Linked DNA regions of Homo sapiens. Changing the gene in region 1 together with any one later gene gives a genetic interaction. Each region holds a gene or a part of one and is shown on either strand. Other genes may lie near its edges. The genes, in order: DNM1L and PEX11G.

Region 1 (8,492 bases):
GATGTAAATTTTATACAGATTTTTGAAATGCTTACAAAATAGCCCTAAGAGTCAACAAAAAATTACATGTGAAAAAAATCTATTTTATATATATACTATATATAGAGTATATATACACTATATATAGTATATATATATATATATATATAGTAACTGAAAATACCATAGGTATTTCACTACCCATCTGAGAAATATGTGAGTTGTTTCTAGTTTTTGAAAATTATGAATAAAGCTGCTGTAGATATTTGCATATAGTTTTTTATATGAACACTGGTTCTCACTTAACATGGTTAAACACCTAGGAATGGGACTGCTAATTTAACTTTATAAGAAACTGCCAGACTGTTTCCCAAAATGACTACACCACTCCCACCAGCAACGTGTGAGAGTTCCAACTGCTCTGCATAGTGTACAATTTTACCTATGGTATTTTTCAGTTACAAATATATATACATAGGTATATATATATATTTTATATATATATTTTATATATTTATATATATTTTATATATATACCTATGTATATATATTTGTAACTGAAATATATATACTATAAAATATATATAGTATATACTATATATATTTATATATACTATAAAATATATAGTATATATTATATATATTTTATATATAGTATATATAGTATATATATACTATATATTATATATACACTATATATTTTATATATACTATATATTATATATACACTATATATTTTATATATACTATATATTATATATAGTATATATAATATATATACTATATATAATATATAGTATATATAATATATAATATATATTTTAAATATATACTATATATATTTTAAATATATACTATATATATTTTAAATATATAGTATATATATTATATATATATAGTATATATATATATTTTAGACGGAGTCCTGCTCTGCATAGTGTACAATTTTACCTATGGCATTTTTCAGTTACAAATATATATACCTAGGTAGATATATATATAAAAAATACATATACCTAGGTAGATATATATATAAAAAATACATATACCTAGGTAGATATATATATAAAAAATACATATACCTAGGTAGATATATATATAAAAAATACATATACCTAGGTAGATATATATATAAAAAATACATATACCTAGGTAGATATATATATAAAAAATATATATACCTAGGTAGATATATATATTTGTAACTGAAATATATATACTATAAAATATATATAGTATATACTATATATATTTTATAAATATACTATATATAGTATATACTATATATATTTATATATACTATATATAGTATATATATAAAATATAGTATATATTTTATATATATATAAAATATAGTATATATAGTATATATATTATATATAGTATATATAGTATGTATAGTATATATAATATATATAGTATATATATTATAAATATATACTATACATACTATATATACTATACATATTTTATATATATACTATACATATTTTATATATATACTATATATATTTTATATATAATATAGTATATATATTTTATATGTATAGTATATATATATATTTTAGATGGAGTCCTGCTCTGTCACCCAGGCCGAAGTGCAATGGCACGATCTCAGCTCACTGCAACCTCTGCCTCTCGGGTTCAAGCAATTCTCCTGCTTCAGCCTCCCGAGCAGCTGGGATTACAGGCGTCTGCCACTGTGCCTGGCTAATTTTTGTATTTTTAGTAGAGATGGGGTTTTACCATGTTAGTCAGGCTGGTCTCAAACTCCTGATCTCAGGTGATCCACCCGCCTTGGCCTTCCAAACTGCTAGAATTACAGGTGTGAGCCACCGTGCCCGGCAAAAATGTTTTAAAAAATTATACACAATGTTTAACATTATTTTTAAAAAAGCACTGGTAAGTAAGGCATTACCAAAATGATGACAGAGGTAATACTAAGTGGGATTGTAGATGAGGGTTTTCCTTTATTAACACTAAATAGTTGTATTTAATGGATCATTTTCTTTCTTTTCTTTGCCCTTTTTTCTTTTTGCATTTACCAGGTCGCAGAACCCTAGCTGTAATCACTAAACTTGATCTCATGGATGCGGGTACTGATGCCATGGATGTATTGATGGGAAGGGTTATTCCAGTCAAACTTGGAATAATTGGAGTAGTTAACAGGTTAGCAGTTAGAATGGGATAAGAATTGGGATAAGCATTCTTAGAATGGGATAAGCATTCTCACTTCAGAGCAAGTCTGAATTTCTAAAATCTGTTTGAAATGTGATGCTGTACTATATTTTTTCTCCCTTTTATTATGATCTTGGTATTGCTAAAGAATCCGTTGCCCTAAAGGGAGAAAAGAGAGAGAATTTTTTTTTTTTTTTGAAATAGGGTCTCTCTCTGTTGCCTAGGCTGGAATGCAGTGGCGTGATTGTGGCTCATTGTAGCATCAACCTCTGGGCTCAAGTGATCCTTTCACTTCAGCCTTTCAAGTAGCTGAGACTATAGGTGTGTATCACCACACCTGGCTAATTTTAAATTTTTTTGTAGTGACAAGGTCTTGCCATGTTGCCCAGGCTTGTCTCGACTTCCTGGGCTCAAGCAATCCTCCAACCTTGGTTTCCCAGGTGCTGGGATTACAGGCATGAGCCACTGTGCCTGCCCCATAGACATTTTTACTGGAAAATGTTTCTAAAGTAAGCAATACCACAAAATGGAAGAAATGTTGTAATAGCCAGGCTTTAAGAATTCTTGCCTATCATGTTAAGCTATGTATGAGGAGGTACTGGGTAAGGGAAAAATTATCTAATGTGCACCCAATCGAGAAAGAGTTTAAGGTGGCAGGATTTTAATAGATTGGTTTTAATCCCTGGCATTAGTGATGCTTCTGTGTAATTGCCAGGATGTGACTTGGAGAAATTGTATTAAAGGTATCCTAATTTATAAATAGTTGGTATTAAAAACTGGGAAAAGGAAACTAGTATTGAGTGTCTAATTAAAGGTGACAAGATTTTAATAGATTGGTTTAATCCCTAGCATTAGTGATTCTGTGTAATTGCCAGGATGTGACTTGGAGAAATTTTATTAAAGGTATCCTAATTATAAATAGTTGGTATTAAAAATCGGGAAAAGGAAATTATTATTGAGTGTCTAATTACGTTTTAGACACTCTACTGTGAGCAATTTGCAAATGGTATCTCTTGGAATCCTCACAGCATCCCCTGAGGTAGGTGTTGATGTCTATTTTATAATCAGAAACCTCAGGTTATACATTTAACCAAAAGTCACGTGGGTAGTGAAAGAGCTGGATTCGGATGAATATCTCTTTTAGTCCAAAGCCTTCATATGGTAGGAAACACTGAAATTATCATGAAATCTGAGTTATAGTCCTAGTTCTTACATAAACTAGATACAACGTAGGTTTAAATGACACCTAATGTCTTTGGGTCTCAAGCCTTTAGAAAATGAAAATGTTTTTACTGCCTGATACATAAGATCCATTCCAGTTGTCTGCTTCTATTTTAATGTCCTTCCATTCCAACCCTACTGTCATTCTCCCATCCCCACTGTCATTCTCCCATCCCCACTCCCAATTCCAGCTGTCTCCTTTTTCAGGTAAGGAGGTGGCCTAACACTGTTCGTTGTTTGTAGATGATTGTTCTTCAAGTTAACTTAATTATTTTTGGGAGAAATTAGTTCCCTGTCCATGGATAAAATATACAGTTGACTAAGATACTCTTATATTTTTATACCTGTCTATACCTGTTACTTATTGTTTTTGTCTATAGTTAATGGTAATAATGAGGCCTACTCTATTTAGGCACTAGTTACTTACAATTCACTTAGTTCAAGTCTTGGCTATGCCAGTTAGTGTGTGACCTGGGGTAAGTTAGTTTTTGTGAGCCTCAGTTCCTTGCTATACAATGGGGTAATAATACCTGCCACATAAAATTATTGTGAGAATTAAATAAAACAGTCCCTGTCAGGTATTAGAGAACAATGCCTGGTGCTGTCATCATCTAAGGTAGGAAGAGGACAACAGTTAAGCTGAATAGTTTCGTTATTTTTTCAACCTCAGGAGCCAGCTAGATATTAACAACAAGAAGAGTGTAACTGATTCAATCCGTGATGAGTATGCTTTTCTTCAAAAGAAATATCCATCTCTGGCCAATAGAAATGGAACAAAGTATCTTGCTAGGACTCTAAACAGGTAATTTTTTTACCTTTTGGAAATGAGATGTGTTTGTTTTTACCAATTGGTGTCTGAGAGGGTTCATTTTCAGTTCCTTACATTTTCATACTGTTCCTAACAGCTTCACTTATGGTTTCTTATATAGTAGGTTCCTGAAGAGTAGATGTCTCTGTTTTTATTGGGGTGGTTGACATTACATCATCACGTAGTCTAGAATGAATGTACAAGTGATTTTAAAATGTTTTAATTACGAAAATTTTGACAGTTAATTTAGTTTTGTGGCTAGAACTAGAGATGACTTCATTTCCACTTTGCATTTCAGGAACTGATTAAAATTTGTAATTTTCACATTATCTATTCTTACCTTAGAATGTGTTTTATTTACCAGGAAAGGGAGATGGAAAAACAAAGAAATAGAATGTCTTTTATTTCTATTCACTGTAGAAATAACTATACGTTGGATTCTGAATACCCACTGATGTGTGGGGACTAGAAGCCCTTTCTAGATGATTTATAAATGACTGAAGTGGAAGCCATTTTCTCTTACTTTTATCTTATTCCCTAAAGACTGATAGACTTGGATCTTAATAAGGTTGATTTTCACTTTGCTGGGTACCAATTGTAAATGACAAGTCAATGAAACCAAAATTATATAGGAAGAATTGATTGGGTGGCTTATTTTCTCTGTGGTAATTGCAGTAATATGAAAATAATTTGCATTTTTTCCTTGCTTTTATTATTTAGGAAAAACCAATCAAAATTGTTTTTTTCCTTTTCACACACAGTTAATCAGTATAGCACAGAATGCTTTTGAGAGCAGATATATGGGGAGTTTTCCCCATACATCAAGCAAGGAATTCTCCAGGGGATTCTAGCTGAATGTCCTTTAATTCAATGCTAACACTGTTTACCTGGAGATAGTGTCAGCGCCCACAGGTTGAGGGTTCAGTCCCACAAGACTGCCCCCAAGTCAGATGCCAGTTGTAAGCACAGGTTGTAGCCTGTGTTTCTGACTGACAGGCTATAAGTCAGGGTACCCATGATCCCCTTTTCATGTTTGATGAATTTGTTAGAGTGGCTCACAGAGGTCAGGGAAACACTACTTAGCATATACCCACTTACTGTAAAGCATATTACAAAGGATATAGATAAATAGCCAGATGAAGAGATGCACAGGGCTGGGCATGTGGGAAGGAATGTGGAGCTTCCGTGCCCTCTCTGGGCACACCACACTCCAGGAACCTTCATGTGTTCAACTCTCTGAAGACTCCATGAACTGTGTCCTTTTGAGTTTTTATGGAAGCTTCATTGGCCATTGGTGATCAGCTCAATGTTTGGCCTCTCTCCTCTCTTCTGAGGCTGTTCTGGTGACCAGCTCCCATCCTGAAGCTATCTAGGGACCCCCAGCCACCAGTCATCTCATTAGCATGCAGAGACACTCTAAACACCCTTAATGCTCTTGGAGAGTCCAAGGATTTTAGGAGCTGACTGCCAGGAAATGAAGACAAAGACCAAATATATATTTCACAGTATCACATTTGCCAGGACAAATTATTTGATAGGTTTTCCCCATTGTAAAAATTTGACTTGTTTAGGGCTTTAGAATACACAATTTTACTTTTAAATCCTTCCTTTCTAACCTTTTTTAGGTTACTGATGCATCACATCAGAGATTGTTTACCAGAGTTGAAAACAAGAATAAATGTTCTAGCTGCTCAGTATCAGTCTCTTCTAAATAGCTACGGTGAACCCGTGGATGATAAAAGTGCTACTTTACTCCAACTTATTACCAAATTTGCCACAGAATATTGTAACACTATTGAAGGAACTGCAAAATATATTGAAACTTCGGAGCTGTAAGTAAGAAATTTTTCTGTAGATTTGGTTACCTAGATTGCTAGGTCACTTTTCCTTTTGTGAAGATGACTTCAGCTCAGATTATCTGATTAAGATTTATTTTCTATAAAACAAAAATATAACTTTGTAGAGATAATAGGATGATGTCTGGTTGTGTGAAAATATGCTTTGTAAATGATATAAAGCAAAGTAAAATTGTCACATATTTTTAAATATTTTAATATTTTATAAGTATTTACTTATTTTTATAAGTATTTAATAAGTATTAAATATTTTAATAAGTATTTAAAAATAATTTAGCTTTTAAAGTGTTTGTTTCTTTAGTACACACAGTATAATTGCTCACAAAAATTAGAAAATGCAGATAAGTAAAAATAAAACATAAAAACAAAATTACATGTTGGTGTGCACCTGTAGTCCCAGCTACTCAGAAGGCTGAGGTAGGAGAATTCCTTGAGCTCAGGAGTTCAAGTCCAGCCTGGGCAACATATTGAAATTCCATCCTTTTTTTTTTTTAATTGAATCCAAATTTTATTAAGGATTTCAAGTTACATACTTCAGATTTCTAGAATGGAATGGAATAATTTTGGAACTGGAAAAATGGCATAAACACTGATATCCCTTGAAACTTCAATTTTATAAAGAAAATTCTTCTGCAAACCACATCCCCATTATATAACAAGACCAGGTATTATCGACACCTTCACTTTGGCAATAACTATTTCCTAAAAGAATGAAAAAGATTATTTTGCTACCTCAGTTCGTTAAAAATGGGATTCTGGCCAGGCACAGTGGCTCATGCCTGTAATCCCAGCACTTTGGGAGGCTGAGGCGGGTGAATCACCTGACATCAGTTCAAGACCAGCCTGGCTAACATGGTGAAACCCCATCTCTACTAAAAATACAAAAACTAGCCGGGCGTGGTGGTGGGCAGCTGTAATCCCAGCTACTTGGGAGGCTGAGGCAGGAGAATTGCTTGAACCCGTGAGGCGGAGGTTGTGGTGAGCCGAGATGGTGCCACTGCACTCCAGCCTGGGCAACAGAGCAAGACTCTGTCTCAAAAAAAAAAAAAAAAAAAAACAGGGATTCTATCTTTAAAGTTCAGAAAAAGCTGCATTTAGATGAACTACGGCTACCAAAACAAACAAAAAAACAGAGTGTCTAATCAAAGCAAAGGAAATGATTTTGAAAATAGAACAAAGCTATTATAATTGGTTAAGGATTTCCAGTAGTAAGTTAAAATCTCAGGAGAGGAATGGATAGCATTACAAACAATGTGTTCACATTCCAAGACCTGAACACTAACTTCTCAAAAAGGAAGTTTTCATCACCTCTAAAAATGAATTCAATGTAATTTTGTTAAGAGCAGGAAATCTAGACCTTCCTCTAATGACAATCCAATAGTCCACCCTCGCCATCGTCAAAAGAAAGTTGCCTCAAAATTAACAGTAATTAGCCTGAGGTATTGTAAATGTGGCACTACAGTCTGAAATTTAATGGCATCTTTTGTCAAAAATAGTCTTATCTCTACTTTAATCTCATGACTACAATACTATGTGCTATCCCTGTAGTATTTACTACTATGCAGTCATACAGAAAAAAATTGTTGGACCTTGTGAAATAGTGCATCCATCTACTTCTATAAAAATAGGAGCCACATTGGCCAGGCGCAGTGGCTCACGCCTGTAATCCCAGCACTTTGGGAGGCTGAGGCAGGCAGATTACGAGGTCGAGAGATCAAGACCATCCTGGCCAATATGGTGAAACCCCATCTCTACTAAAAATACAAAAATTAGCTGGGCGTGGTGGCACGTGCCTGTAATCCCAGCTACTTAGGAGGCTGAGGCAGGAGAATCGCTTGAACCCAGGTGGTGGAGGTTGCAGTGAGCTGAGATCGCACCACTGCACTCCAGCCTGGGCAACAGAGAGAGACTCTATCTCCAAAAAAAAAAAAAAAAAATATATATATATATATATATATATATAAATTATATTAATTAAATATAAATTAAATATTTAATATATATATAAAAAATAATAATATATATAATAATATATATAGAAGCCACACAAAGATCACTAACTGATAGTTTAGTTTGATAACTGTTTTCCAGTTTAGTTGTCAAAGCATGGTGTGAACAAAATGCTGAGTGTCAACACTGGCATTACAAATAGGCCCAAAATGTGAGCTTTTAATGAGAATGAGAAACATTTTATGAGATTTAACTGAATATGCCTTAACACATCCATGAGGTAGTTAAGTAAACAGTACTACACATTTTAATACATAGTAAACAGAAGCATGGGTAAGTGACATACTCATACTTCAAGCAATAAGAATTAGAAGAAACCACACAGAAGCTTGGGGCATTCTCTCTAGCTCTACCCCAAAGAAAATGAACTTTAATTTTTTTTTTTAAAGCATCGTATCACTGAAGATTTTCTTCTTCTTCTTCTTTTTTTTTACACTTGC
Region 2 (8,412 bases), on another chromosome or scaffold:
TTGGGGCCAGGTGTGGTGGCACACACCTGTAATCCCAGTGCTATGGGAGGCTGAGGATGGAGGATCACTTGAACCCAGGAGTTCAATGCAGCAGTGGTGCTATGATCATGCCACTGCACTCCAGCCTGGGCAACAGAGCGAGACCCTGTCTCAAAAACAAACAAGAAGAAAAAAAAAAGAGGCTGGGCATGGTGGCCCATGCCTGTAATCCCAGCAGTTTGGGAGGCCGAAGTGGGTGGATCACTTGAGCCCAGGAGTTTGAGACCAGCCTGGCCAACATGGTGAGACCCTATTTCTATTAAAAACTCCAAAAATTAGTGGGGGCGTGGTAGCAGGTGCCTGTAATCCCAGCTGGTTGGGAGGCTGAGGCAGGAGAATTGCTTGAACCCGGGAGGTGGAGATGGCAGTGAGCCGAAATCATGCCACTGCACTCCAGCCTGGGCAACCGAGTGAGACTCTGTTTAAAAACAAAAACAGAAAGAGAGAGAGACAGAGAGGAAGAAAATCACAGGAGTGGACAAGGCCTTTCTTGTGCCCCCTTGTGTTCCATGCTCCCTTGGAGCACAAGAAGAGATCTTTGGACAGGGCAGTGAAACTTACAAAACAGATTCTCTGTTTTCTGCCAGGCTGTGCGGATATAGCCATGAACAAGACAGGTCACCAGCAGGTAACATGGGTAGGAAGTGTCCAGGAGGGTGTGATCGGGTGGGTCCCGTGAGAGGATGACATTCGAGTAAAGGAAGTTAGGGAAGGAGGGAGCCACGTTGGTATCTGGCTCAAGAACATTTCTGCAGAGGAAACAGAACATGCAAAGTTCCTGAGGCAGGAATCTGCTGTAACTTTAAACAACAGGAGGAAAGCAATGCAGGAGAAGAGTAACAAGAGTTGAAATCAAGAGGAAATATTCTGTGAAAGAAAACTGGTTAACATCGAGGCCAGACGCGGTGACTCACGCCTATAATCCCAGCACTTTGGGAGGCCGAGGTGGGCAGATTTCTTGAGATCAGGAGTTGGAGACCAGCCTGGCCAACATGGCGAAACCCCGTCTCTACTAAAAGTCTAAAATTAGCCGGGCACAGTGGCGGGTGTGCTGTAATCCCAGCTATTTGGGAGGCTGAGGCATGAGAATCGCTTGAACCTGGGAGGTGGAGGTTGCAGTGAGCTGAGATCAGCACTGCACTCCAGCCTAGGCAATAGAGTGACACTCTGTCTCAAAAAAAAAAATTCAAACAAACCAACAAACAGACTCGTTGACATCATTAGTCATCAGGAAAAGGCAAAACAAAACCACAATGGGGTGGCACGTCACACCTACTACGATGGCTATCATAATCAAAAAAGGATGTTGCAAGGAAGTGGCGAAATTGGAACCTTTGTGTAATGCTGGTGGGGATGGAAAATGGTACTGCTACTGTGGGAAACAGTTGGGCAATTACTCAAAAAGTTCAACATAGAGTTACAAAATGACCCAGCAACCCCACTTCTAGGTATAGACCCAAAGGAATGGAATCCAGGGACTCCAACTACATATTCACAAATGTTTATAGCTGTACTTATTCACGATCGCTAAAAGGCAGAAACAGCCCAAATGACCATCAGCTGATACGTGGATAAACAAAATGTGGTCCATCCATATGGCGCAATGTTATATAGCTGCAAGTGGAATGAATTTCTGATACATGCTGCAACTTAGACAAACCTCAACACCATTATGCTCAGCTGCACGCAGTGGCTCACACCTGTAATCCCAGCACTTTGGGAGGCCAAGGCAGGAGGATCCCTTGAGTCCAGGAGGTCGAAACCAGCCTGGTGAACATAGCGAGACCGCATCTCTACAAAAGAAAAATTTTAAAAATTGGCCAGATGTGGTGGCGTGCACCTGTAGTCCCAGGCAATGTGGAGGCTGAGGCAGGAGGATCTCTCAGGCCCAGGAGTTCAAGGCTGCAGTGAGCTATGATCACACCACCGCACTCCAGCCTGGTGACACAGCAAGACCCTGTCTCAAAAACAAAAAGCAAAAACCAAAACAACCTATTATGCTTGGTGGAAGAGGCCGACACAAATGGTCACATATTGTATGATTCCATTTGTATGAAATATCAAGGAGGTCGGGCATGGTGGCTCATGCCTGTAATCCCAGCACTTTGGGAGGTCGAGGCAGGCAGATCCCTTGAGGTCAAGAGTTCAAGACCAGCCTGGCCAACATGGTAAAATCCATCTCTACTACAAATACAAAAATTAGCCGGGTGTGGTGGTGCGCACCTGTACTCTCAGCCACTTGGGAGGCCGAGGCAGGAGAATTGCTTGAACTTGGGAGGCGGAGGCTGCCGTGAGCTGAGATCATGCCACTGCACTCCAGTCTGGGTGACAGAGTGAGACTCTGTCTCAAAAAAAAAAAAAAAAAAAAAAAATCAAGAAGTGGTAAAAATACAGAGAGACAGCAGAGAATGCAGATTAGTGGTTGCCAGGGGCTGGGAGGAGGGAGGAATTGAGTGATTGCTTTATGGGAACAGGGTGTAGGGGAGGAAACATACTTTTTCCTTTATTCTTAGTTCTTAGCTGTGATGGATCCTTGCAATGAAAGAATTAAGAAGGGCGGGTGCGGTGGTTCACGCCTGTAATTCCAGCACTTTGGAAGGTCGACGTGGGAAGATTGCTTAAGCCCAGGGCTCAAGGCCAGCCTGGGTAACATGGTAAGACTCCATTTCTACAAAAAATAAAAAATAAAAAGAAATTAGCCAATTGTGGTGGCAGGCACCTGTGGTCCCACCTACTCAGGATGCTGAGGTGGCAGGATGGCTTGATCCCAGGAGTTCAAGGCTGCAGTGAGTTAAGATCGTGCCGCTGCACTCTACCCCTTTTTTGTGGGTAGTTGGTCAAGCTACCATGGGGCAGAATGTAGCAAGCTCTGGGCATCATCCTGGGTCCTCAGGCCCAGAGAGCACACAAGTGGCGGCTTCACATCTACAAATTTGGTTCCTCCCAGAGCGAGGCCCTGTCTCAAAAAAAAAAAAAAAAAAAAAAAAAAAAAATAGAGGCCAGGCGCGGTGGCTCACGCCTGTAATCCTAGCACTTTGGGAGGCAGAGACGGGCGGATCACGAGGTCAGGAGATCAAGACCATCCTGGCTAACACGGTGAAACCCCGTCTCTACTAAAAATACAAAAAAAAAAAAAAAAAAAAAATTACCCAGGCGTGGTGGCGGGCGCCTGTAGTAGTGCCAGCTACTCGGGAGGCTGAGGCAGAAGAATGGCGTGAACCCGCGAGGCGGAGCTTGCAGTGAGCCGAGATCGTGCCACTGCACTCCAGCCTGGGCGACAGAGCGAGGCTCCGTCTAAAAAAAAAAAATTAACAAGGGAAAAACAAATTTATTAACATGTGTACCTTATGTGTACATGGGAGATGCCAAGAGAAATGAGGTGGCTTATATAGCTTATATAACTCCTGCTTATATAGCACCTTCAACATATAGCAGCAAATTTTTGGAGAAGTGACAAGACGAAGGAAAAGGACATTGAGGCCGGGTGCGGTGGCTCACGCTTGTAATCCCAGCACTTTGGGAGGCCGAGGCGGGCGGATCACTTGAGGCCAGGAATTTGAGAACAGCCTGGCCAACGTGGTGAAACCCCGACTCTACCAAAAATACAAAAATTAGCCGGGCACAGTGGTGCACAGCTGTGATCCCAGCTACTTGGGAAGCTGAGGCACGAGAATCGCTTGAACCAGGGAAGCGGAGGACGCAGTGAGCAGAGATGGCGCTACTGCACTCTAGCTTTGGGGACAGAGCAAGACTCCGTCTCAAAAAAAAAGAAAAAAAAAAAAAAGACGTCTCCAGACAAGAGTCTAAAGGTGTCCCTGGTGATCAACCTTTGTCCTTCCTGGTAGAGAGGGGAGGAGGGCACCTTTGTACCTTTAGGTCCTGCTTTGAGGCAAATCAGGGAAGAACAGAGAGCTTTTCCGGTATCAGCTTCATTGATCTCAGCTCAAAATAATCCTACACCAAGGTCGCATATTTCAGAGGGGCATATGCTGGTCTCCTACGGGGGTCTCTCTTGGGGGTGATAAAAATACCCCGAAACTAGCAAGGGGTGATGGTTGTCCAACATGTGCATGTACTAATGTCACTGAATTGTGCATTTTTATTTTTTATTTATGTATTCTAGAACAATTCTTAACGTCCAAAGATAACGTCTTTCCTTAACGTCGAAAGATGCCTTGTTGTGATATTACAGCAGTCATTCCTGCTCACTACGGGCAGGCAGACAGTGCAGAAAAGGTGAAGCACAAAAACTAAAAAGGAAAATCTCTCCTTGAACCACTGCGAACAGGTTGGTGGTTTTGCTTGGAATATTTTTGGAGCGTGTGGGTAGTTGGTTAAACTTAGAAATATATTTTTTTGTGCGTGGGTAGTTGGCCAAACCGCCGTGGGGCAGAATGCAGCAAACTCCGAGGATGATCCAGGGTCTGCAGGCCTGGAGAGCACACACGTGTCGGCCCCACCTCTGCAAACTCTGTCCCTCCCCTACAGCGGACAAAAAGCCGGTCAGGGGGACAAAGGCCTGCGGCCGCGCCTGCGCGCAAGCCTTTGGGGCGCTCCCGGTACCCCGGCCTGGCCCCGCCCCCTGGCGCGGCGCGCCGACGTCGCGGTGACGTCACGGAGTTGCCATGGCGTCGCTGAGCGGCCTGGCGTCGGCGCTGGAGTCGTACAGGGGCCGGGACCGCCTGGTGAGGCAGGGGCGGACCGGGGCCGGAGGTCCTAGAGTTTGGCCCAAGCTCAGAGACTGGGAAACGGGCCAGAGAGGGGACGGGGTCGCCCAGGATACTCCGTCGCAGAGGCCCCGTCCGAGCTAGGCTCAAATGCGGTGCCCTAGCATTGGACATTTATGTATTTATTTATTTTGGCTGGAGTGCAGTGGTGCGATCTCTGCTCACTGCAGCCTCCGCTTCCCGGGTTCAAGCGATTCTCCTGCCTCAGCACTCCCGAGTAGCTGGGACTACAGGCGCCCGCCACCACTCCCTGCTATTTTTTTGTATTTTTAGTAGAGACGGAGTTTCATCGTGTTAGCCAGGATGGTCTCGATCTCCTGGCCTCAAGCGATCCACCTGCCTCGGCCTCCCAAAGTGCTGGGATTACAGGCGTGAGCCACCGCGTCTGGCCAGCGTTGGACATTTAGATAGTTTCTGCCAACCCAACCTGTCTGGACATTGACACACTGGCCAGATTCCCGTGTTTGGACGTTTTGGATCCGACCAGGCCACTGAAGTTGTCCTGAACAATCTCGTGTTGGGATTTGGGATGTTGCAGGGCTCCCCTGTGGCTGGACATTCACTTCCAACCAGATTCCCTATAGTTGGGCATTTAGGTTGTTTCAGCCAACCTAGACCAAAGAACACGCCATGGCCTGGGCCCTGCCATGCCTAAGCAGCGATGGGTTCCAACAAAACCCCAGTTGGTCATTTAGATCGTCTCTGCCAACCCAGCCTGGCTGGACGTTTACATACCAAACAGATTCCCATGTTTGGACATTTAGGATCTGACCGGGCCACTGTAGTTGGTCCCTGGGTTGTCCCAAACAATCTCATGTGGGGATTTAGGATATTGCAAGACTCTCCCTATGGCTGGACAGTTTTTAGTTCCAATCAAGTCCCATATGGTTGAACATTTAGGTTATGCCATCCATGCCCCTGAGTCTGGACTCTTAGCTTGTCCCCACCAGTCTCTTATAGGTAGACATTCAGGTTGTACCAGGCGGTGTACTGGTGGCTAGGCATTTAGATTCCATTCAAATATCTTATGATTGGGGGGGTGGGTTAACAAATCTCCCCCGAGTTGAACATTCAGATTGCAGTGTTTTGCCATTATAATGGGGCTGGAAAGGAATTACAAGTAAAAATAAATAAAACAACAGGAACAAGCAATTTCTGAAAAGCAGGTAAAATAAAGATATAAGGGAGGCCAGGCGTGGTGGCTCGCGCCTGTGATCCTAGCACTTTGGGAGGCTGAGCTGGGTGGATTGTCTGAGCTCAGGAGTTTGAGACCAGCCTGGGAAAAGTGATGAAACCTCGTCTCTACTAAAATACAAAAATTAGCCGGATGTGGTGGTGCGTGCCTGTAGTCCCAGCTACTTGGAAGGCTGAGGCGGGAGAATTGCTTGAACCTGGGATGCAGAGGTTGCAGTGAGCTCACACCTTTGCACTCGAGCCTGGGGAGCAGAGCAAGACTCTGTCTCCAAAAGAAAAAAGATCTGAGTAGTGAAGATGACCTATTTCAGAAGGCTCCACATCACCTACTGAGTAGGTTCTTTCTCTCTAAAGTAATTCTACCAAATTATCCTGTTGTTCACTGGGTTGAGGCCTGATCACCTGTGCCCACCATTCAGCACATCCAAAGGCTTTGGTCCAGGCAGGTAGATGTAAATATACACTTTAGCTGTGGCTTCCTGCCACCTGGGAAAAGAAGGACCTAGGAGGTGGGAAGTAAGGAGCTTTGTTTTCTTTGTTCCTGTCACATCTGTTCCCAAAGGCTGTGCCCTTCAGTTACATCAATGATGTCATGTTTCTTCATTTGTCCCACCTCCAAGTATGTTTTTAAACTTCCAGCTTTTTTTTTCTTTTTCTTTTTCTTTTTTTAGACAGGGTCTCGCCCTGTTGCCCAGGCTGGAGTGTAGTAGCACGATTACAGCTCACTACAGTCTGGAACTCCTGGGCTCAAGTGATCCTCCAGCATCAGCCTCCCAAGTAACCACCATGCCCTGTTAACTTAAAAAAATTTTTGGTAGCCAGGCGCGGTGGCTTACGCCTGTAATCCCAGCACTTTGGGAGGCCGAGGCGGGTGGATCATGAGGTCAGGAGATCAAGACCATCCTGGCTAAAATGGTGAAACCCCATCTCTACTAAAAATACAAAAAATTAGGTGGGCTTGGTGGCGGGTGCCTGTAGTCCCAGCTACTCGGGAGGCTGAGGCAGGAGAATCGCATGAACCCGGGAGGTGGAGCTTGCAGTGAGCCGAGATCGCGCCACCGCACTCCAGCCTAGGTGACGGAGCAAGACTCCGTCTCAAAAAAAAAAATTTTTTTGGTAGACACAGGGTCTTGCTATGTTGCCCAGGCTGGTCTCAAACTCCTGGTGTGAAGGCATCCTCTCACCTCGGTTTCTCAAAGTGCTGGGGTTACAGGTGTGAGCCACTGTGCCCCACCTAAACTTTCAGCTTTTACTGTCACTTTGTAGATTTAGAATCTTCCAAACTCTTGGGTCAGGCACGGTGGCTCATGCCTGTAATCCCAGCACTTTGGGAGGCTAAGGCAGGTGGATCACTGAGGTTATGAGTTTGAGACCAGCCTAGCCAACCTGGTGAAACCCTGTCTCTACAAAAAATATAAAAATTAGCAGGGTGTGGTGGTGGGCGCCTGTAATCCCAGCTACTGGGGAGGCTGAGGCACAAGAATTGCTTGAACATGGGAGATGGAGGCTGCGGTGAGCCGAGATCGTGCCACTGCACTCCAGTCTGGATGACAGAGTGAGACTCTTTCAAAAAAAAAAGAGAATCTTCCACACTCTCAATCCAGCGGGGCCCGGGGCCAGGTATGGGGGGATGCAGCTCAGTTCTGCAGAACAGGAGGGCCACACTGACTGCTTCTGGTTTCCCACAGATCCGAGTGCTGGGGTACTGCTGCCAGCTGGTTGGTGGAGTTCTGGTTGAACAGTGTCCCGCCAGGTCCGAAGTGGGGACACGTCTGTTGGTGGTGTCCACCCAACTCAGCCACTGCAGGACCATCTTGCGACTCTTTGATGACCTGGCCATGTTTGTCTACACTAAGCAATATGGCCTGGGGGCACAGGTAACAGGGTTTGTGGGGCTCTAGGGAGTAGGGTGCGGACCTGAGTGGACATTTTTTAAAAAATTTTTTGGCCCCTCACAGTGGCTCATGCTTGTAATCCCAGCACTTTGTGAGGCCAAGGCTGGCGGATCATGAGGTCAGGAGTTCGAGACCAGCCAGGCCAACATGGTAAAACCCTGTCTCGGCTGGGTGCAGTGGCTCATGCCTGTAATCCCAGCACTTTGGGAGGCTGAGGCGAGCGGATCACGAGGTCAGGAGATGGAGACCGTCCTGGCTAACACAGTGAAACCCCGTCTCTACTAAAAATGCAAAAAATTAGCCAGGTGTGGTTGCAGGCGCCTGCAGTCCCAGCTACTCAGGAGGCTGAGGCAGGAGAATGGCCTGAACCCGGGAGGTGGAGCTTGCAGTGAGCCGAGATCGCGCCACTGCACTCCAGCCTGGACGACAGAGCGAGACTCCGTCTAAAAAAAAAAACCCTGTCTCTACTGATAATACAAAAATTAGCCTGGCATGGTGGCGTGTGCCTGTAGTTCCAGCTACTTGGGAGGCTGAGGCAGGAGAATCACTTGAACCTG

The links.
Region 2: of DNM1L (region 1) and PEX11G, changing one enhances a phenotype caused by changing the other (phenotypic enhancement), as found in Homo sapiens cells (one study listed by BioGRID).

Annotation. Positions count from the first base shown.
Region 1 is NC_000012.12:32,716,616-32,725,107, forward strand, and holds part of DNM1L (dynamin-1-like protein), read left to right. Parts: intron 1-2,027; coding exon 2,028-2,148; intron 2,149-4,048; coding exon 4,049-4,180; intron 4,181-5,811; coding exon 5,812-6,018; intron 6,019-8,492. UniProt on the Homo sapiens protein: Functions in mitochondrial and peroxisomal division.
Region 2 is NC_000019.10:7,485,263-7,493,674, reverse strand, and holds the start of PEX11G (peroxisomal membrane protein 11C), read left to right. Parts: upstream 1-4,639; 5' UTR 4,640-4,664; coding exon 4,665-4,724; intron 4,725-7,648; coding exon 7,649-7,837; intron 7,838-8,412. UniProt on the Homo sapiens protein: Promotes membrane protrusion and elongation on the peroxisomal surface.